2 separate regions of the Homo sapiens genome follow, and region 2 is linked to region 1. Evidence: fine-mapped expression QTL. A gene starts in region 1. The other region holds a variant in brackets. All regions are shown on one strand. Distances are from middle to middle. Region 1 holds the start of FASN (fatty acid synthase). Region 2 overlaps CCDC57 (coiled-coil domain containing 57).

Evidence for each region. PIP is the estimated chance that this variant, and not a neighbour inherited with it, causes the effect.
Region 2: its variant is the best candidate, but not a certain one, in a credible set for the expression of FASN in whole blood (INTERVAL, PIP 0.73).

Annotation. Positions count from the first base shown.
Region 1 is chr17:82,093,160-82,103,725 of GRCh38, reverse strand. FASN (fatty acid synthase) reads left to right here and starts at 5,490. Exons shown (of 43, transcript NM_004104.5): 1 at 5,490-5,605; 2 at 7,274-7,407; 3 at 8,254-8,406; 4 at 9,955-10,128; 5 at 10,307-10,507. The coding sequence starts at 7,281. It overlaps CCDC57 (coiled-coil domain containing 57), which reads left to right. Exons shown (of 19, transcript NM_001394669.1): 19 at 1,860-2,256. The coding sequence ends at 2,044. RefSeq lists silencers at 4,318-5,797, 5,868-6,057, 6,078-6,287, 6,348-6,397 and an enhancer at 6,266-7,181.
Region 2 is chr17:82,144,228-82,154,793 of GRCh38, reverse strand. It overlaps CCDC57 (coiled-coil domain containing 57), which reads left to right. Exons shown (of 19, transcript NM_001394669.1): 15 at 3,021-3,234. Among named protein-coding and RNA genes, the nearest start is that of FASN, 51 kb to the right of the region's middle. RefSeq lists an enhancer at 4,926-4,985. The variant CA/A (reference allele first, on the strand shown) is at 5,535.

The sequences.
Region 1 (10,566 bases):
CCCTTCACCCCCCTCCCTCAGCTCACTTTTTCTGAAAATCCCCACAGGCTTTGTCTGAGGAGGATCAAGCCGGGCAAAGCCCCCAGAATCCCTGAGCATTACAGAGGGACAACCAAGGCCTCTGGGTTTGAGGAGATGCCTCAGGGTCACAGTGGAGCACTAGGGCCTGGTCAGAGGACCAGCTTCCCCGCAGGAAGCCCTTTCCACGGGATACCCCACCCTCTGCCAGCCAGTGTGGGGGGTGGGGGGAGGGAGTGGGGATGGGGGCGTTGGCCGGGACCAGGAGGTCAGGCAGGCTTATTGTTGAGAGATAAAGGGTGGTAGCCTTTGTGTGAAGAGGAGGAATTCCTCTGGGGGTTGGAAACAAAGGGAGCAGGCAGCGTCCAGGGCCCCCCAGGACCCCAGCAGGGGGCCAGGGACTGTGTGACCCCAACGGGGCTGCAGGAAAAGGAAGACTGGTTCCGGGTGTCTTGAGACCCCAAGAGTGGATCGGAGTGGAAGAAGCTGAGATGGGAAGAGGGGCCCAGGGCCAGGGCTGGGAGTGTGTGGCTGCCCCCATGGGCACTGCGCAGCCCAGCTGAGAGTGCGTCATTGCCGGTGTCCCCAAAGCACAGACGCTTCCCAGTCACCCAGGCTGCACGCAGACCACACAGGCTGGGCTCCAGCAGGAGGCGTTGGCCGCCCGCTGACCTGCCTGGGTCAGCCTGTCCAGACTGCCCACTGGGCCACATTCAGCCACGTGCTGGAGTCCTCTAGACCTCACCCCAGCCACAGTGTGGCCACGCAGTGGACGCTGAGCTCACATCTTACTGTGGGGTTTTTTTTGTTTTTTTTTTTTTTGAGATAGAGTTTGCCCTTGTCCGCCCAGGCTGGAGTGCAGTGGCGCAATCTCGGCTCACTGCAACCTCTGCCTCCCGGGTTCAAGCGACTCCGCTGCCTCAGCCTCCTAAGTAGCTGGGATTACAGGTGCCCGCCACCGTGCCCGGCTAATTTTTTGTATTTTTAGTAGAGACGGCGTTTCACCATTGTTGGCCAGGCTAGTCTTGAACTCCTGACATGAGGTGATCCACCCACCTCGGCCTCCCAAAGTGCTGGGATTACAGACGTGAGCCACCAAGCCCAGCCCTTGCATGGATTTTTAGTAACATTTTGCTGTTGTTTTACCAAAAAAAACCCCCACATTCTTAATTGAAAAAATGAAAAATAGAGAAAAACTGGCCAGATAAAGAAGATCACCTACAACACCCCTCTGCGAAGATGGTTTTAGCCGATGTTTAGGAAGGGCTATCTGGCATTTAGGCCCCAGCCTCTGTGTGTAGCGCACTCCTGGGCCCTTGGCCTGTGCCTGGCCACGTGGTGCCCACCAGCACGGCCTTTCCTTTGGCCTCAAAAGCCTGGCACTGCTGGCCCATCGGGGAGGCGGGGGCAGGCAATGTGTCTCAGATGGTAGGGACACCCGGGGCAGCCTGGGGGGAGGAGCTTTGAGTCAACCATTTACCCCAGCACCCCTGCCCCCTCCTGGGACCCATTACCACACAGCACCCCTGCCCCCTCCTGGGACCCATTACGAAATGGTCACAACAGGACCATTTTCAGAGCCACATGTCCAGGTGCCCAGTGGAGGGGCAGGCCCAGTCCCTGCCAAGCAGGACCCACTGAGCAAGGCGAGGCCACAGCTCTCTGGTCACTCCAGGATCCTTTGGCCTTCACGGACTCCTGGAGGAAAGCCAGGCCAAGGGTCACAGGGCCCCCGCTGGCCGGGAACACGGAAGTGCTGCACCTGTGCAGTGCCTGTGAGCACAGCCTCCTGCTCCCCCTGCCATCCTGATGCATGCTGTTTTTTCCTCTTTACCTGACAGAGCTCCCAGCTCCTCCAGCAGCCGACAGGAGGCCCGTCAAGATGCAGGCAGGCATTGCCACCCCAGGGATGAAGACAGCAGCCCAGGCAAAGGCCAAGACCACAGGAGCCTCCCGGTCTCATCCTGCAAAAGCTAAAGGCTGCCAGAGGCCCCCCAAGATCCGTAACTACAACATTATGGACTGACTTCCTCCCCCCACCCCGCCCCACTAAGGGGTGCTCGGGGCCTCCGCATGGTGCCTGTGCTTTCACCTACGTGTTGTGGGGGGGTGTGGGCACAGCGTGCAGGGTGGAGGCAGGGAGCTGCAGGGCAGGCTCCCAAATGCTGCTGAGGCGACCCTGCTGACTGAAGGCCTCCCTGAGCACAGGGCCCATTAAAACCAGGTTCCTCCCTGGGGCGTCTGCTTGGCCTTAGCGTTGTTTATCTGTCCTACTTGGGAAATGCAGTATCAAGTGCCTGTGCCAGAGCCTGGCCTGCCCGTGTCACCACCCACAGCCATCTGCACACCAGTGGTGTTGGGGACAGTGTGGCCTTCCTCAGAGCCTGGTAGCAGGTAGGGGGCAGATCAGAAAGCCCACCCACAAAGCAGGCGTCTCCTGAGAGTACCATGGGAGGGGCCCTCCCAGAAGGAGTGAGAGCCTTGGATCCCAGTGAACCGGGCCAAGGTGACCCCTGGAAGCCAGGTGGGCACCTGGGCCTCATGCAGGTTGGGGTGTGCATGTCAGGTGCTGGCAGGGTGGGGGCCAACCGGGGACAGCGGTCACTGCTGGGCCTTCCACGTCCACCCCCACGAAGGATAACAGCAAAATGTCCCTGCCACCTGAGTGCCCGGGGCCAGGTACCTGCAAGGATGAGAAACGCACACGTAAACTGACGCCCGTCCGCCCGGAACACACTGCACTACCCCGCCAAAAAGCACTTCCAAGAGTCCTCGCGTGTCCTCCACACGAACACAATGCTCTGCGACCGGCAGGAGGGTGACTGGGGGTGGTTCATCACACGGACGCAGTGCTCTGCAACCGACAGGACGGTGACTGGGGTGGGGGTTCATCACACGGACGCAGTGCTCTGCGACCGGCAGGATGGTGACTGGGGGGGGTTCATATCCCACCCCCACTCCTCAGGAGCCCAGTCTCTGTCCCCCGCACCCCCCAGGCCTGGTCACACTCTGCCCACAGCAGAGTGCAGGGGTGGAGGCAGCCGGTACCCAGCTGGGTGAATTGACGGGCCTTGCCATATACCCTCGGGCCACCTTTCTGAACTGGGCAGACAGCTTCTCTGGGAACACGATGGGAGAACGCTGCTCCCAGCCCTAACCTGCCGTGCCACCTTGGCAAATCGTGGGACCTTTGCAGCTTTGGTTTGCACCCCCAGTGTAAAATATAGACAGTGCCATCGGCTGGCCTAGCTCACAGGTGTGCGGGCCGGATAACCGTGACAAGCAGAGACCACACCACACAGACAAAGGCTGTGGCCCCAGGGCAGGGGCGTTTGAGGTTAGCCTCCGTCACTTGCTCCATGGGAATCCAGACGGAGTTGGGGATGGGCTGGAGGCTCTCAGTGCTCTGTGGTCTCCCACACATGTCCCCTGGAATCGAGTCACGGCCCTGTGAGGTTTTTTTGTTTGTTTCTTTTTTTGAGACAGAGTCTTGCTCTGTCGCCCAGGCTGGAATGCAGTGGTGCAATCTCGGCTCACTGCAACCTCTGCCTCCTGGGTTCAAGCTATTCTCCAGCCTCAGCCTCCCGAGTAGCTGGGACTAGAGGCACGCGCCACCACACCCGGCTAATGTTTGTATTTTTAGTAGAGACGGAGTTTCCCTGTTTCCCAGGCTTGTCTACAACTCTTGACCTCGTGATTTGCCCGCCTTGGCCTCCCAAAGTGCTGGGATTACAGGCGTGAGCCACCAAGCCCGGCCGCTGCCGCTCACTTTCTGTGGAAGCCCTCAGGGTGCTGGACGAGTCTCCAACCTCCTTGGGAGCCAGCCAGGGCTCCCCTGTAGCTGGCCCAGCCCTCGACAGGCTGCAGAGAGCAGGGCCCCGCTGGCCGCTGATCACCAGCACTGGCAGCCAGGGCCACCTGGGAGGTTTGGAGCATGGAGAGCCGGAGCTGCGTGCCCGCACGCCTGAGGCTGACACAGGGCCTCACCCTGAATCAGAAGAACCCCCGCAGTGGGGACAGCAGTGCGGGGCCAGCCCCGGCCCTGTCTTCCCTTGTCCTTCCTTGACCCTCGGTCCCACCGTGCGTCAACCACAGCCCCAGAAGGGAAAAGACGCGGAGTGGCCGCCTGACCCTCAGGCCTGCTCTCAGGAGAGGAAGGAAGCGGGACACCTGCAGAGGGGCCGGGGGCCCCAGTCTCCGGTTCCCCTTCAGCGGCCCGGGCTTGCTGAGCCCTCAAAGTAGGACACGCAGCCAGAGACACCTGTGGCCTCACAAGGCCCGCTTGCCCCCCATGGGGTGCCTGGCCCCGCAAGCGCGAAGCGGTCAGAAAAGGGAGGCCGCGCTTCAGGGCTCAGGCCGCCCAAGGGGCCACGATTCGAGGAATCACTCGGGAGGGAGGGAGCGCGCGAGGGCCGGGCTGAGCCCCCGCCCGTGGGTGCGCGCCTGGAAAACTCGCAGCCTCCGCCCTGGGAAGTGGGGCAGCGGCTCCCTTTGTCCGCACCACACCAGGTGGGTGTCCCGGCCGACTCCGCTCGCCACGTGGCCGCGCCCCTCCCCTCCGCCGAGCTCCAGCGGCCTGGAGTGCGCTCGCCCGTTCGGCCCTGCGCCTCGTCCGGGTCCCCGGGAAGCTGCTAAGGAGGGGCCGTCGGGTGGGTGGACGTCCGTCTCGGGTCTGGGTTCCCCGCCGCACCCGCGAGGAAAACCGGGGATGCGCTGCGATGACCGGCAGTAACCCCGGCCGGGGCGCCCGCGGCCGGGGTCAACGCCCGCACTTGCGCCGCGGCCCGCGAGGCATCCGGGACCGCCCCGCCGCCCGCCCATCACCCTATCGCCTAGCAACGCCCACCCGCGCGCCGCCATTGGGCCGGTGCGAACACCCCTGGCGCCCGATTGGTTGCTGCTGCCGCCGCGCCGCGCAACGCCGCGCCCTCAGCCAGCTCCGCGCGGGCAGCGACGGCGGCGTGGAGTCGGCGGCCGAAGTGCGGGCACGCGGGTCCGTCCGTCCTTCCGCGCGCCTGTGGGTCCGAGCGCCCCGCCGCAGCCGGCTGGACCCCCGGTGTGGCCACGGGGTAGTCCCCAGTGTGGCCCAAGCATTCCCATCCCGCACACGTGGCCCCGGCGGACACGGGGGTCGGGGATGGCTCGGGAGGCGCGCCGCGGGCTCGGTCGCAGCCGCGTGCGCGTCGGGGCCCGCGGGGCGGGAGGCGGAAGTCGGGGGGCGGTGGTTTCCCGCCCGCCCCGCCCCCGGCGCTCCTCAGTCCCAGCCCCACCCCCCCAGGCGCGTTCCCGCGCAGGGTCCCGGCTCGGGCGGCGGCGCGCACGAGCATCACCCCACCGGCGGCGGCGCGCCGGGTCCCGGGGCGCAGCCCCGACGCTCATTGGCCTGGGCGGCGCAGCCAAGCTGTCAGCCCATGTGGCGTGGCCGCCCGGGGATGGCCGCGGTTTAAATAGCGTCGGCGCCGGCCTAGAGGGAGCCAGAGAGACGGCAGCGGCCCCGGCCTCCCTCTCCGCCGCGCTTCAGCCTCCCGCTCCGCCGCGCTCCAGCCTCGCTCTCCGCCGCCCGCACCGCCGCCCGCGCCCTCACCAGGTACGAGCAGCCGGCGCTGGGGCCGGGGCGCGGGTCGTGGTCGGGGCTGGGCCCGGGGTTCCCGGGGTGGCCCGGCTCCTCATCCTCCGCTCTCGGGGCGCGCGTGGCCCGGCCCCGTATCCAGGGGTCGCCTGGGCGGCCTGTCCGGGTCTCGGTGTTCGTGCCCCTTCGGAGGCGCCCGGGGCCCCGCGGAGTAGGTGGGCGGATGGCGGGGGAAGGACGCCGGGGAAAGCCACCAACAGCCGCCTTCGCTTCCCGTGGGGGAGGCCGCGGACCCTGAAGGGCCTGGAGGAGCCCCCGGCTCGGCCTCCCCGCGCCCACAAAGGCGCCGCCGCATCCTCCTCCCGGAGCCGCCCCGGAGCCGAGGCCCAGCCCGAAGGGGACGCCGCGAGGGAGGAACGGGGGGGCGCAGGGGCCGCGCCGGGACCGGCCTCCCCATCACGTGGCGCAGCCCGGCCGAAGCGCAGGGGTCCCGAGCAGCCCCCGCCCGGGGCGAAGGGAGGCCGGGCGCGCCGCGGTGTTCCCACCCCCTGCCTGGCCGTCGACCCCGCGTGAATAGCAAGCGGCGAGGACCCAGCGTGCGGGCCTGGAGCTGGCCCGGGGCAGCCAAGCCTCTGTGAATCGCAGCGGGTGGGAAGGCGGCCGCCTCCCTGCCGGGACGGCCCAAGGGAGGCCGCACTGCCGAGGGGCGGCGCGCGTATCAGGCCCTGGGGCCTCGTGCAAGTGGCCAGACCAGCGCTGGCCTCCGCCCCCTCCCCCCAGGGCCGCACCAGCCCTCATGCTGGAGGAGGAGCCGGCGGCCTGGGCACCCGTTCCGGGTCTTAGGGACCTGGGCTCCAGGGAGGGCCTCCTGTGGTGTGTGGGTTGGTATGGGGAGGCAAGCGTCTGTGGGTTCACCCGCGCAGGTGAAGGGTGCCAGGCAACACCTGCGTGTCCTGGCCAGGAGTGGTTCTCCAGGTTGGACCCTGCTGGAGGGGTTGGACTGGCTGGGTCGGTCCACAGTGGGGCAGGGGCCACCTTTCCCCCAGAGCATAGGCTATCCCCATTTCGTCCCTCCCCAGCCCTGGTGGCTCTTGGGCTGGCCTGGACAGCGGGCCCCCACCCCAACACGGGTGAGCATGGGTGCTGAGTACCCCCCTCTAGGGCTCCCAGCCACCTCCATGCCCCGGCTTTGGGACCCTGCCTCTCCATTTCTTTGATGGCCCTTAGCAGGCTGGCCACCTGAGGCCTTGTCCCCATCTCAGGTGACCCTGCCTGCTCCTCACTGTGAGCCCCCTGGTGCCCTAGGGATGGCCTGGGACAAGCTCCAGGAGCCTTGGAAGGCTGAGACTCAGGCGAGTGGAAGCCGACACAGGCGCAGAAACCAGTAACTGCTGGGGAGGCCAGGGCTGCAGGGCTCCAGTGGGGTACCCCAGCCAATACCCTGAACTGAATGGGTCAGGGCCCAGAGGCGGGCCTGTTCCCAGAGCACGCAGCCCCTCCCAGCGAGAGCGGGGTCAGGGCCCAGGAACTGGCCACATGAGGAAGGGAGCCGCAGGAGCCAGGGCCCGCACGGACCCTCAGGGTGGTGCTTGGCCCCATGGGTGTCCACCTGTTCTGGGTGCCGAGGCTGTTGACGGGGGTGTCGTGGCCGGGATGTGTGGGGCACTCACACCGCCCGCCCTGCAGAGCAGCCATGGAGGAGGTGGTGATTGCCGGCATGTCCGGGAAGCTGCCAGAGTCGGAGAACTTGCAGGAGTTCTGGGACAACCTCATCGGCGGTGTGGACATGGTCACGGACGATGACCGTCGCTGGAAGGCGGGTATGTGGCTGCGGGGCTCCCCGTGCCTGGGGTGTGAAGCTCCATCTCCACCTTTGTCCTCACAGCAGCCTCCCTGCTGTGCTGTGTCCTCACCACCCAGGCACTGGCCTGAGGCCGGTCCCAGCTGCAGAGCCACTGGTCACCCATGGGCGAGGCCTAGCTGCAGCCTCCTTCCTGGACATTGCACCAGAGTGGCCTAGAAAATGCGCCCAGCCTGCCAGGAGGTTCCCTCAACGGCTGCAAGGCCAACAGGAGGCTCCCCCAATGGCTGCAAGGCCGAGGGCTGGCCCAGGCAGGGCCCATCTGCTTGTTACGGAGGAGCCAAGCTCAGAGGATGGGTGACGGGCTGGGGTCTCTCACCCATGCAGGGGGTGCGGGGGGCCAGAGCCCTTCCGGCCAGGCTGCCCCTGCCTGTGTCTGTCCTGAGCTGGGAGGTTGCATACCAGATGTGCTCCGGGAGGCTGGAGCAACTGCCCCACACCCAGTAGGCTCTTCCACAGAGCAGCTCTACCTGACAGGCAAGCTGTGAGTCAGCATGGTAGAGCCGAGGCACCAGCCCGGCAGATGGTCCCCCAGCCTCACTCCCGCCGAGCTCTCTGCTCTGCGGCCCATCTCAGGATTGGGGCTTGGGGCTTGGGGCTTGTGCAGCAGATCTGGTCGTACCAGTCCCCGCTTTGGGGCCATGGTCTTCCCCTCCTGGGGAGCCTGCTCCATTGTTTGGGCCTCCCAGGCATAGCAGAGAGTCCTCAGTTCCACCATGGCCCCTCCAGGGGCCTGCAGCACCCCACAGGGCCCCCACCTCTGGGCAGCTTCCGTCAGAGATTTAAACACCCGCCTGTCCCACAGGGCTCTACGGCCTGCCCCGGCGGTCCGGCAAGCTGAAGGACCTGTCTAGGTTTGATGCCTCCTTCTTCGGAGTCCACCCCAAGCAGGCACACACGATGGACCCTCAGCTGCGGCTGCTGCTGGAAGTCACCTATGAAGCCATCGTGGACGGAGGTGGGTCGGGCATTCGCGACTGCTGCGCCGAGGGCTCCTGCTGCTCACGTGGAATAGGCAGTGTTTTCTCTTCTTGGTTCTGGTAGAACCAGGTGCTGGCACCACCTACCCTCCCCGGCTGTGCCCCTGGCCTGGCCAACGGGCTCAGGGAGGTGTGGGCCACGGGGTAGGCCGCAGTTTCCCAACTGCACCCCAGAGGTGTCGCGGGTGTGCCCTGACCTGAGCGTACCAGTCTCCTCGCTTCTGATGTCTGGCTGGTGCTGGGGCCGGGGCCGGGGCTGGAGTGACGAGAGGCAAAGCAGGAGGTTCTTGAGGGGCCCTCCAGGCCCCCACCCCCACCAGCCAAGCAGCGGACAGCACCGGCCCTGCTGTCTCTCCCCTCCCACCCTCCCCACTACCCTTGCCCACGTCCCCCCACCCCAGGCATTTCAACCCTCTCCCGCCAGCCTGGCCCTCGCTCTGACTGGCATTTGACCTCGGACAAGCGCCACGCCGTTTTTTTATTTTTATTTTTATTTATTTATTTATTTTTAAGACGGAGTCTCACTCTGTCACCAGGTTGGAGTGCAGTGGCGCGATCTCAGCTCACTGCAAGCTCTGCCTCCTGGGTTCACACCATTCTCCTGCCTCAGTCTCCTGAGTGGCCGGGACTACAGGCGCCCACCACCACGCCCGGCTAATTTTTGTATTTTTAGTAGAGATGGGGTTTCACCATGTTTGCCAGGATGGTCTCGATCTCTTGACCTCGTGATCCATCCATCTCAGCTTCCCAAAGTGCTGGGATTACAGGCATGAGCCACCACGCCCAGCCATGCCATTTCTTAAGATCCAGGTGCTCCCTCCCCGGGCGGAGAAGGACCTCCTGAGGGGGAGGCTGAGCCCTGGGCTGCCCTTGGGTGTGAGCGGTTCACACACCCACCCACCCTAGGGCAGAGCCAGCCCACCAGGGGCGAGGAGGGGCCCTGCTGGCCGAGAGGTGGAAGCCCTTCTCCTGCGCCCTTCCTGCTGCCAGACCCCACCCCAAGACTAAGGTTATGCTCCCCGGGGGTGACCGGTGTCCCTCTCTCCTTCCCGAGCCTGGACACTTGGCCTTTGTCTCCTCGGTTCCTTATCACGGCCTGTTCTGGTGCAGGCTGCCCTTGGCGCTGGAGAGGCCACTGGCCGACGGGCTCATCAGAGCTGCCGGTGACACCAGGGGCCAAAGGCGTCGCCTGGGGACAATGCTGCCCTCTGTCCTTCCTGGAGCCACTCTGGCCGTGCCTGGTGCCCTCCCCTGGGCCCGCCTGCCCCCTCCGCCTCGTTCCCTCTGTGACCTGGTTCCTGTTCCAGGCCTCACCTGGGCTGGCTGCTGGCCACAGGCTCTGTTCTGGCCCCTCTGCAGGACACCTCACCCTCCTTAGGCCCCTTCCAGGGTCCCACTGGGATGGACCCCCCCTCACCCCAAGCCAGTGAGGCCAAGATGGGACCTTCGCCCCAGAGCCGGGTGGGTGGGTGGGCTGGCTGCGCTGTGGGGCCCGGCCGTGGCACCTTGACCACTGTTTGTGGCAGGCATCAACCCAGATTCACTCCGAGGAACACACACTGGCGTCTGGGTGGGCGTGAGCGGCTCTGAGACCTCGGAGGCCCTGAGCCGAGACCCCGAGACACTCGTGGGCTACAGCATGGTGGGCTGCCAGCGAGCGATGATGGCCAACCGGCTCTCCTTCTTCTTCGACTTCAGAGGTGGGTCCTGCCCAGCCTCCTGCGGAGGTGGGTGGCCTTCAGGTCCCCACATGCTGAGCAGAAACCACGTGGCGTGGGCTCACTCCGTGCAGTGTGTGTCCAGCCTGGTGGCAGGAGGTGTGCTCAGGGGTCTCGTGTGCTCACAGCCCCACCTGAGCCGCAGCACCCTTCCTTGCAGGGCCCAGCATCGCACTGGACACAGCCTGCTCCTCCAGCCTGATGGCCCTGCAGAACGCCTACCAGGCCATCCACAGCGGGCAGTGCCCTGCCGCCATCGTGGGGGGCATCAATGTCCTGCTGAAGCCCAACACCTCCGTGCAGTTCTTGAGGCTGGGGATGCTCAGCCCCGAGGGCACCTGCAAGGCCTTCGACACAGCGGGTGAGTGTGCGGCTGCGCGGCCAGGGCAGGCGGGACAGTGGCACAGGACGGCCCCCCGC
Region 2 (10,566 bases), 51 kb before region 1:
AGGAGAGACGGGCATCAAGTCATCATCCGTAGAAACGCCACGTGGGACCCTGGACCCTGCACAGGAGAGACGGCGTCAGGGCATCATCCGTAGAAACACCACGTGGGACCCTGGACCCTGCACAGGAGAGACGGTGTCAGGGCATCATCTGTAGAAACACCATGTGGGACCATGGACCCTGCACAGGAGAGACAGTGTAGAAATGCCACGTGGGACCCTGGACCCTGCACAGGAGAGATGGCGTCAGGGCGTTATCTGGACGGTTGGTGACATTTGCACACGGGCCACGGACCAGGTCACGTATTGTGTACACCCACCCAAGTACTGAGGTGTGACGCGGCACTGCGTCTCCAGCCTACCTCCTGTAGTGCAGGAAGCCAGTGCAGGGTGGGTGAGGAAGTGCACAGGGGTCCAGGGACTGTCCCACAGCACTCCTGACGAAAGCTGGTCCCCTTCCACGGCCCTAGCCAAGGAGCCAGGTCTGCAAAGCTGGGACCAGGTGTGTGCGGAGGCACGTGTTCCCACTTCTCCCATGGCAGAGGGAGAGCCTGTGGACAACAGTGGGGCACTCTGCTCCCAGGCAGGTCCCACTGGGCTGAGCCGCACAGCCTGGCTTTGGGCTTCCCTGACTGCACCACCCACATCAGCTGCCTCTAGCCCTTAAAATACAAAACTTCCCCCAGTCACTGGCCGCCAGGGCTGAGTTGGGGGATGTGTTACATCCCTGGGTCCACTGGGGGGCAGTGTTGGCCATGGTGTTGGTGCTGGCTCTGCCGAGAGGCGTTGGAGTGGCTGTGTGGGGCGGTGAGCGCCGGCCCAGCCTGATGGAACCCACTGTACCAGGCCCAGGCCTCAGCCTCTGAGAAGGACTTCCCTGTGTCACTCACTCATACATGTCCTCAGGACGTGAAGACATTTCAGCAGACCAAAGTTTCCTTCGAATTTTCTTCGAATCGTCCAGATACTTGGAGACATCTCCTCCTCACCTGTGGGGTGCTGGGGCAGTCCTAGGCGTGGGGGCAGATGGGTGGACAGCTGCTGCTGCCCTGCTGGGGGTGGGCAGCCCTTGGAGCACACAGTGGTGAAGACATTCCTGAATATGTCTCAGGCTGTAGAAATCTTATTTTGTGGAAAGATTTTAGAGAATCATCAAAATAAACTTTTACCAAATAACATTTTACCAGAAACTGAATCCGAGAGAAGTAGAATCGTTCACTCCCTGCCCCCCAGGTCACTGTGTGCAGAATCACGTGACTAGGACATGGGCCCTGTGATCCATGCCCTCCTTCCTTTGCCTGTGGGGTCAACAGCAAGAAGGCCCCTCAGTGCCCCTCAAGCCTGGCACCAGCCGCAGGGCCTGGTGTAACTTTGCAGGGAGAGGGGACTGCTTTTGAAGACGGAATTTTCTCTTAAATCTCTAAGTGTTTTGAGGTTTGCAAAATCTGTTTTCGGGATTGTTCTTTCTTCAGTTAAAATAACAAAATAACCCAGTGTGTTCCTGTAGAGGATCCAGGGTTTTAGAACCGGACTTGCGAGTCTCACCTGCCTGGCCCCTCTCCCCCAGCCCCAGGCCATCTGCAATCTGTTTTACCAGCACAGGCCTCCCTTCCTCTCCCTCTGCCTTGGCCTCTCCCACACCCAAGAGCCCATTCCTGTCTATTCTCCCAGGGTGGTGAGTGAGCCTCTGCACCACACTTGCCAAGGGTGCTCACGGAGCAGGCATGAGGCCCGCTTACTGGAGGAAGCGAGTCTGGACTCGGGCTCAGGCCTGTGGCGAGCCTTCATGGGGGCTGCCCTGCACCCGTCCTCAGCTGGGGCCTGCGGCACCATAGAACTTTCTCTGTCCAAGAGGAAAGCAGACATCTCTCCCCTTCGATGTGTCATCCCCCGCGGCCCCCGAGCGTCCCACATGAACCTGCGGCACATGCCCGGAGGCACTGCATACAGTGGCTGCACCCCAGGCCATCCAAAGAACAGCAGCACCTGGAAGGCAGCAGCACCTGCCAGCCCTGGAAAGGCACACCAGGAAGCTGGCGGGGACAGGGTGTGCTGGCCTGTTCCAGGAACTCGGAGCTCATGTGGCCAGGGCCAGGTGCAGCCTGGCTCCTTACAGGGGCCAGGAGTGGCACGGGAGAAGTAGGTCGTCGGCTCCCGTCTTGCCAGGGCCTGGACACTACTGCTTTTTCCTGTGCCCCCATTTTTGGTCCAGGCATCCCTTTGTGTTGGGATTGCACTCTGTAGCACTGGAATGATGTGGGCTGCAAGTCCAGGTTGGGCTGAGTGAGGACAACACAGTGCTTCCCAGGGGCTCAGATCTAGGGTTGACCCAGGCTTGGGGTGCTAAGGGGGAGCCCAGCCAGCTCCTGCCCCTGTGTCGGCCTCCTCCCTCTCCACTGCCTTTGTGCTCCCCCTGCACCTGCTTCAGGAGGGAAGCCACAGCCGGCCTGCAGGGTGGTTGTGGGGTGTCCAGCTGGCAGGTAGAGAAAGGAGGGACCCCAAGGAGTGGAGGAGGGCCAAGCCACGCTGGCGGGAGCTGTCCTCCTGGGTCCTGGGCACTGCTAGAGGCCACAGCCTTCTCTCTGCTCTCCCTGGGCCGCCTTCCTGGGTCCTGGGCACTGCTGGAGGCCACAGCCTTCTCTCTGCTCTCCCTGGGGAGCTGCTGTGCTGGTTGGGTGTCCTCAGATTCTCCTTGTGTTCACTTGAAAGACACAAAGGCATAGATGACCAGAAGGCAGGGATGGCGGGGAGGAGGCGGAGGGCTGTGAGGGCCTGGGAGATCTGGGGGCCACCCTGGCCTGGGAGATCTGTGGGCCTTTATTCTATTTGTGGAAGAGAAGGAACCCACTGAAGCACTGGGAGCAGCGACTCTTTTTGTCTTTCTTTTGGAAGGATGTCACCCAGTGACAGCCAGCAGTGCCCACCCTGGAAGAGCAGGTGAAGAGGCTCCTTGGGTGGGCACCCCTGGCGTCCTCCCATGAGGGCAGCCTCACAGGGGTGTCTGCCTGTGAGTTTTGTTACAGGGCCTCACCAAGAGAGGGCCTATGGAGGCCGAGGACCAGGGGGAGCTTTTCCTGCACCTCCGGTCAGTGGCACGTGCCCCCCAGACCTTATCTATGCACCGACTCCAGAGAAAGCTGAAGGAGGCAGCCAGAAAAATCATCAGCCTCCGCCTGGAGAAAGAGCAGCTCATCGAGATGGGGAACAGGCTCCGTGCAGAGCTGGGCCGACCCGAAAGTGAGTCCGGGAAGTGGAGGCCATGGCCTGAGTGTGGGTCAGGTTCTGGGTGTGCACCTGGTTCTGGGTGTGCGCCAGGTTCTGGATGTGGGTCAGATTCTGGGGGTGCACCAGGTTCTGGATGTGGGTCAGATTCTGGGGGTGCGCCAGGTTCTGGGTGTGGGTCAGGTTCTGGGTGTGTGCCAGGTTCTGGGTGTGTGCCAGGTTCTGGGTGTGCACCTGGTTCTGGGTGTGCATCTGGTTCTGGGTGCGGGTCAGGTTCTGGGTATGCGCCTGGTTCTGGGTGCGGGTCAGGTTCTGGGTGTGTGCCAGGTTCTGGGTGTGTGCCAGGTTCTGGGTGTGGGTCAGGTTCTGGATGTGCGCCTGGTTCTGGGTGTGCGCCTGGTTCTGGGTGTGCGCCTGGTTCTAGGTGCGGGTCAGGTTCTGGGTGTGCGCCTGGTTCTGGGTGTGGGTCAGGTTCTGGGTGTGCACCAGGTTCTGAGTGTGCGCCTGGTTCTGGGTGCGGGTCAGGTTCTGGGTGTGCGCCAGGTTCTGGGTGTGTGCCAGGTTCTGGGTGTGTGCCTGGTTCTGGGTGTGTGCCTGGTTCTAGGTGCAGGTCAGGTTCTGGGTGTGCGCCTGGTTCTGGGTGTGCGCCTGGTTCTGGGTGCGGGTCAGGTTCTGGGTGTGGGTCAGGTTCTGGGTGTGCACCAGGTTCTGGGTGTGCGCCTGGTTCTGGGTGCGGGTCAGGTTCTGAGTGTGCGCCTGGTTCTGGGTGTGGGTCAGGTTCTGGGTGTGCACCAGGTTCTGAGTGTGCGCCTGGTTCTGGGTGCGGGTCAGGTTCTGGGTGTGTGCCAGGTTCTAGGTGTGCGCCTGGTTCTGAGTGTGTGCCTGGTTCTAGGTGCGGGTCAGGTTCTGGGTGTGCGCCTGGTTCTGGGTGTGCTCCTGGTTCTGGGTGTGCACCAGGTTCTGGGTGTGCGCTTGGTTCTGGGTGCGGGTCAGGTTCTGAGTGTGCGCCTGGTTCTGGGTGTGGGTCAGGTTCTGGATGTGCACCAGGTTCTGAGTGTGCGCCTGGTTCTGGGTGCGGGTCAGGTTCTGGGTGTGTGCCAGGTTCTGGGTGTGCGCCTGGTTCTGGGTGTGTGCCTGGTTCTAGGTGCGGGTCAGGTTCTGGGTGTGCGCCTGGTTCTGGGTGTGCGCCTGGTTCTGGGTGTGCACCAGGTTCTGGGTGTGCGCCTGGTTCTGGGTGCGGGTCAGGTTCTGAGTGTGCACCTGGTTCTGGGTGTGCACCAGGTTCTGGGTGTGCGCCTGGTTCTGGGTGCGGGTCAGGTTCTGAGTGTGCGCCTGGTTCTGGGTGTGCGCCTGGTTCTGGGTGTGCGCCTGGTTCTAGGTGCGGGTCAGGTTCTGGGTGTGCACCTGGTTCTGGGTGTGGGTCAGGTTCTGGGTGTGCGCCTGGTTCTGGGTGTGCGCCTGGTTCTGGGTGTGGGTCAGGTTCTGGGTGTGCACCAGGTTCTGAGTGTGTGCCTGGTTCTGGGTGGGGGTCACATTCTGGGTGTGTGCCAGGTTCTGGGTGTGCGCCTGGTTCTGGGTGTGCGCCTGGTTCTGGGTGCGGGTCAGGTTCTGAGTGTGCACCTGGTTCTGGATGTGCGCCAGGTTCTGGGTGTGGGCCTTGTTCTGGGTGTGTGCCTGGTTCTGGGTGTGCGCCAGGTTCTGGGTGTGCTCCTGGTTCCGGGTGTGCGCCAGGTTCTGGGTGTGCGCCTGGTTCTGGGTGTGGGTCAGGTTCCGGGTGTGCGCCTGGTTCTGGGTGCGGGCCAGGTTCTGGGTGTGCGCCTGGTTCTGGGTGCGGGTCAGGTTCTGGGTGTGCGCCTGGGGTCAGTGGGAGGGCTCTGGACGCAGCCTTCTCAGGAAGGCCCGAAGGAGCACAGAAGCCCCTCTTGTGAGCGGGGCCTGGTCGGAGGCCACTGCACAGAGCAGGACCTCATCTTAGCTGCGGGCGCTCTGGGGACCCACTTCGCTGGCAGCATTTGTGAGAACAACACCGCAGGTTAGCAAAGCAGCCGGCATTTCTGTGCGGCTCTGTGGTGAGCAGCGAAGATGGCCGCAGACTTCTCCAGGTAAAGGCAGCAGTGTCTCCTGACTGAGGTGGAGGCTGGGCATCTTGGACACAGACACCGGAGCTGACTTCCTAAGAAAGGCAAGGGGCACTGGCTTTATGACTGAGTGTTTCAGTGAGTCATCCATCTGTTCCTCCATGCATCCACCCACCTACCTATCCATCCATCTATCCAACCACCCATCCATCTATCCATCCATTCACCCACCCCCCC[CA/A]TCCATCCATCCATCCATCTACCCATCTACCCACCCACCCATCCATTCATCCACCCACTCATCCATCCGCCATCCACCCACCCATCCATCCACCCACCTATTTATTCATCCACCCATCCATCCATCCATCCATCCATGCAACCACTTATCCCATCTACCCATCCATCCATCTACCCACCCACCCATCCATCCATCCACCCACCCAACCATCCGTCCACCCACCCATCCATCCATCTACCATCCATCCACCACCCATCCATTCATCCATCTACCCATCTACCCACCCACCCATACATCCATCCATCTACCATCCACCCACCCACCCATCCATCCACCCACCTATCTGTTCATCCATCCATCCATCCAACCATCCAACCACTTATCCCACCCACCCATCCATCTGTCCATCCACCCATCTACCCACCCACCCATCCATCCACCCACCCACCCATCCATCCATCTACCATCTATCCACCCACCTATCTTTCCATCCATCCATCCACCCACCCATTCACCCACCCACCCATCCATGTATCCATCCACCCATCCGTCTGCCCACCCACCCAACCATCCATCCATCTACCCATCCACCCACTCATTCATCTATTCACCCACCCACCCATCCATCTATCCATCTACTCACCCACCCATCCATCTATCCATCTACCATCCACCCACCCATCCATCCACCCACCTATCTATCCATCCATCCATCCACCCACCCATTCATCCATTCACCCACCCACCCATCCATGTATCCACCCACCCATCCATCCACCCACCCACCCACCCAACCATCCATCCATCTACCCATCCACTCACCCATCCATCCACCCACCTATCCATCCATCCATCCACCCACCCATTCATCCATTCACCCACCCACCCATCCACCCATCCATCCACCCACCTATCCATCCATCCATCCATCCACCCACCCATTTATCCATTCACCCACCCATCCATGTATCCATCCACCCATCCATCCATCTACCATCCATCCATCCATCCATCTACCCATCTACCCACCCACCCATCCATCCATCCATCTACCATCCACGCACCCATCTATCCACCCACCTATCTATTCATCCATCCATCCATCCATCCATCCATCCATCCATCCATCCATCTAACCATCCAACCACTTATCCCACCCACCCATCCATCCATCCACCCATCTACCCACCCATCCATCCATCCACCCACCCACCCATCCATCTACCATCCATCCACCCACCTATCTATCCATCCATCCATCCACCCACCCATTCATCCATTCACCCACCCATCCAACCATCCATCCATCTACCCATCCACCCACCCACCCATCCATCTACCATCCATCCACCCACCTATCTATCCATCCATCCATCCACCCACCCATTCATCCATTCACCCACCCATCCAACCATCCATCCATCTACCCATCCACCCACCCATTCATCTATTCACCCACCCACCCACCCATCCATCTATCCATCTACGCACCAACCCATCCATCCATCCATCTACCATCCACCCACCCATCCATCCACCCACCTATCTATCCATCCATCCATCCACCCACCCATTCATCCATTCACCCACCCACCCTTCCATGTATCCATCCACCCATCCATCCACCCACCCGCCCAATCATCCATCCATCTATCCATCCACCCACCCATCCATCCATCCATTCGTACACCCACCCACCCATCCATCTATTAATGTATCCATCCATCCGTCCACCCACCCATCTATCCATCCACCTACCCACACACTCACCTGTCCATCCGTCCATACACCTATCCATCTATCCATCCAACCACTTATCCCACTTATCTATCCATCCATTCACCCACCCATCCATCTGTTCATCTATCCACCCATGTATCCAATTAGCCACTCTCACTCATCCACCAACCCACCCATCCATCTATCCATCCGCCCATCCATCCACCCACCCACCCACCCATTCATCCATCCATTCATCTATCTTTGCATCCACCCATCCATTCATCCATCTATCCATTCATCCATCCATCCATCCACCTACCCATGCACCCACCTATCCATCCATTTATCCAACCACTTATCCCACCCACCTATCCATCCTTTCACTCACCCATCCACCCATCCATCCAATCATCCAGTCACTCATCCACCTACCATCCATATATCCATCCACCCATCCAGTAGAGGAGCCCCTGCTGAGTGCCAGATACTTTCTGCCTTCTTCAGTTCCTATGTCGCCAGGCCCAAATCTGGCTAAAGAGATGTTTCCTCGGCTGTGTGTGGTGGCTCACGCCTGTAATCCTAGCACTTCCCGAGACGAGACTGTGTGTGTGCACGTGCATTTGTATGTGAGACTGTGTGTGTGCACACACGTTTGTTTGCGAGACTGCACAAGCGTTTGTGTGCAAGACTGTGCATGTGCGTTTGTATGTGAGACTGTGTGCACACACGTTTGTGTGTGAGACTGTGCACATACATTTGTATGTGAGACTGTGTGCACACATGCATTTGTATGTTAGACCGTGTGTGTGCATGCATGCACACATCCATAGGGAGGACTCAATGGAAGTTTGTCGATTTATTGGCAATTTAGAGAAGAAAGTAGAGTGAGAAGAGAAGAATGGGGACTTTTGGTTTGGCTTTGATTATACCAAACATACCCCATTTGTTTCTTTTTGGGAAGGCCGTCCTCCCCACCTAAACATTGAGTTCTTAGCTGGGCATGGTGTTGTGTGTCTGAAGTTCCAGCTACTTGGGAGACTGAGGTGGGAGGATTGCTTGAGCGCAGGAGGTCGGGGCTGCAGTGGGTATGATCCTGCCTGTGAATAATCACTGCACTCCAGCCTGGGCAGCACAGGAGATCCAGTCTCTAAAAACATTTAAAAAAATAAAAAAGATGAGTCCTGATTGCAAAGGTTTAGGCAAGACTGACTGGTCTATCTGCATTTTTTTCCTAAGATCACTTATCCGGTTCATAAATGATGTGGCTGCAATCATTAAGTAGTACAGAATGGCCAGCTGTGACAAACATATCATCATTATTCAACGTGGGACAGCCGTCCAGCCAGGGGGCTGAGCAGGACCTGCTCTGCCTGTGGCTGTTTCTAGATGCTTCTCTAGTCCACTTCACAACAGCTACTCTGCCCCAGCACCGGTGGCCCAGGGGTCACCTGCAGCTGCCTCAGTGCATGTCCTCACCTGTCCGCCTCTGGGAAGGGGCCGCATCCCGCAGGGAGCAAGCTGACCGCCACTTCACTGGCTCTCGGCTGCTTTCAGGCATAGAGCCTGTCTCATGCTGCCGGTGCCCATATAGATGGCTGTGGGGGGAGGTGCCGGGGCGTCCCCTGTGCTCTGGTGACACTGGTTCCTGCCAACACCCCATTCAGACTGTGGAGCCAACTCCAGCAGGTGACATGGTGGGCCCCCTCTGAGATAAGGAGCTTCACCTGCCTGCTACAGGGTTCCGGCCGAGACCAGGGCGGGGAGTGAGAACAGCCCCACTCAGGGGCCTGCAGGGGGAAGCAGGAGGCAGGTGCTGTGGGACCCTGCCTGCAGGCCCCTCTGCCCACAGAGTGGGCAGTGCCTGGAGCTCACCCTCCCTCTGCGCCTTCCAGAAATCAGCTGCACATGGCATTTCCTTGATCCTGTAGAAAGCTGGGATTCCTTAAAATGTTGTTTCTAGTAAACTTCTTTATGATAGCTAACTTTTTTTTTTTGAGACAGAATCTCTGTTGCCAAGGCTGGAGTGCAGTGGTGCGATCTCGGCTCACTGCAGCCTCCGCCTCCCGGGTTCCAGCGATTCTATTGCCTCAGCCTCCCAAGTAGCTGGTATTACAGGCGCCCGCCACCATGCCCAGCTAATTTTTGTATTTTTAGTAGAAACGGGGTTTCACCATGTTGGCCAGGCTGGTCTCATACTCATGACCTCAAGTGATCTGCCCACCTCAGCCTCCCAAAGTGCTGGGATTACAGGTGTGAGCCACCGCCTGATCACCTGAGGTCAAGAGTTTGAGACCAGCCTGGCCAACATGATGAAACCCCGTCTCTACTAAAAATACAAAAAAAAAAAAATTAGCCAAGTGTTGGGGCACGTGCCTGTAATCCCAGCTACTCGGGCGGCTGAGGCAGGAGAATCTCGAACCCGAGAGGTGGAGTTTGCTGTGAGCCAAGATCAAGCCACTGCACTCCAGCCTGGGTGACAGAGCGAGACTCTGTCTCAAAAAAAAAAAAAAGAAAAAAAAAAAGAAAAGAAATAAAATTGATTTGGAGGGCCAATCTAAATAGGTAAAAGGATTTCCTGTTTTAAATTTGTGCTTCTTTAATTTTGTGTGTATGTAGGGGGCTTACTGTGGGGCCACTTGTATTTTATCGTCATGTCATTTTCCTGCTGAGTCTTTAATGCATCGGGAAATGATCTAGTGAAAAAGAACAAATTAGGGATCTCGCTTTGTTGTTTCCCAATAGTTGGCAGCTGACTCAATACTCTTTATTAGGCATATGTGCATAAATAGTAAAGTATCTATTTACATTTAATTTATTAGTTAAATGACACGTACGTATTTAAAATCTTATAACAATATATTGAGTTGGAAGTAATAACTTTTGCTCACATTTTATGAAACAGTTGATTGAAGCTCTTCCCAGGCCTGCTCCTTGACCTCGGTTCCCTGTTTACCACAGTGGGGTCTTCCAGGAGCCTGGAGAGCAGTTGATCGGACACAAGGCTTTATACTCAGACTCAGGTACAAGGCAGCCCCATCTTTTCTAGGAAAGAGAAAAGGGAAATGGACTTTTATTCAGGGATCTCTGCCCTTTGCTTTGTCAGTTCCTTCAGCAAGAGTCTGTGGGGAGTACATGCTATGTATCTGTAGATGACTTTCTAGAATGATGGTTTAGCTGGAAATAGAATTTTCTGTATGTTGACATTTTTCTACTACTTTTTTTTTTAAAAGAGATGGGGTCTCGCTCTGACACCCAGGCTGGCATGGTGGTGCCATCGTAGCTCACTATAGTCTCTATTTCTTGGGCTAA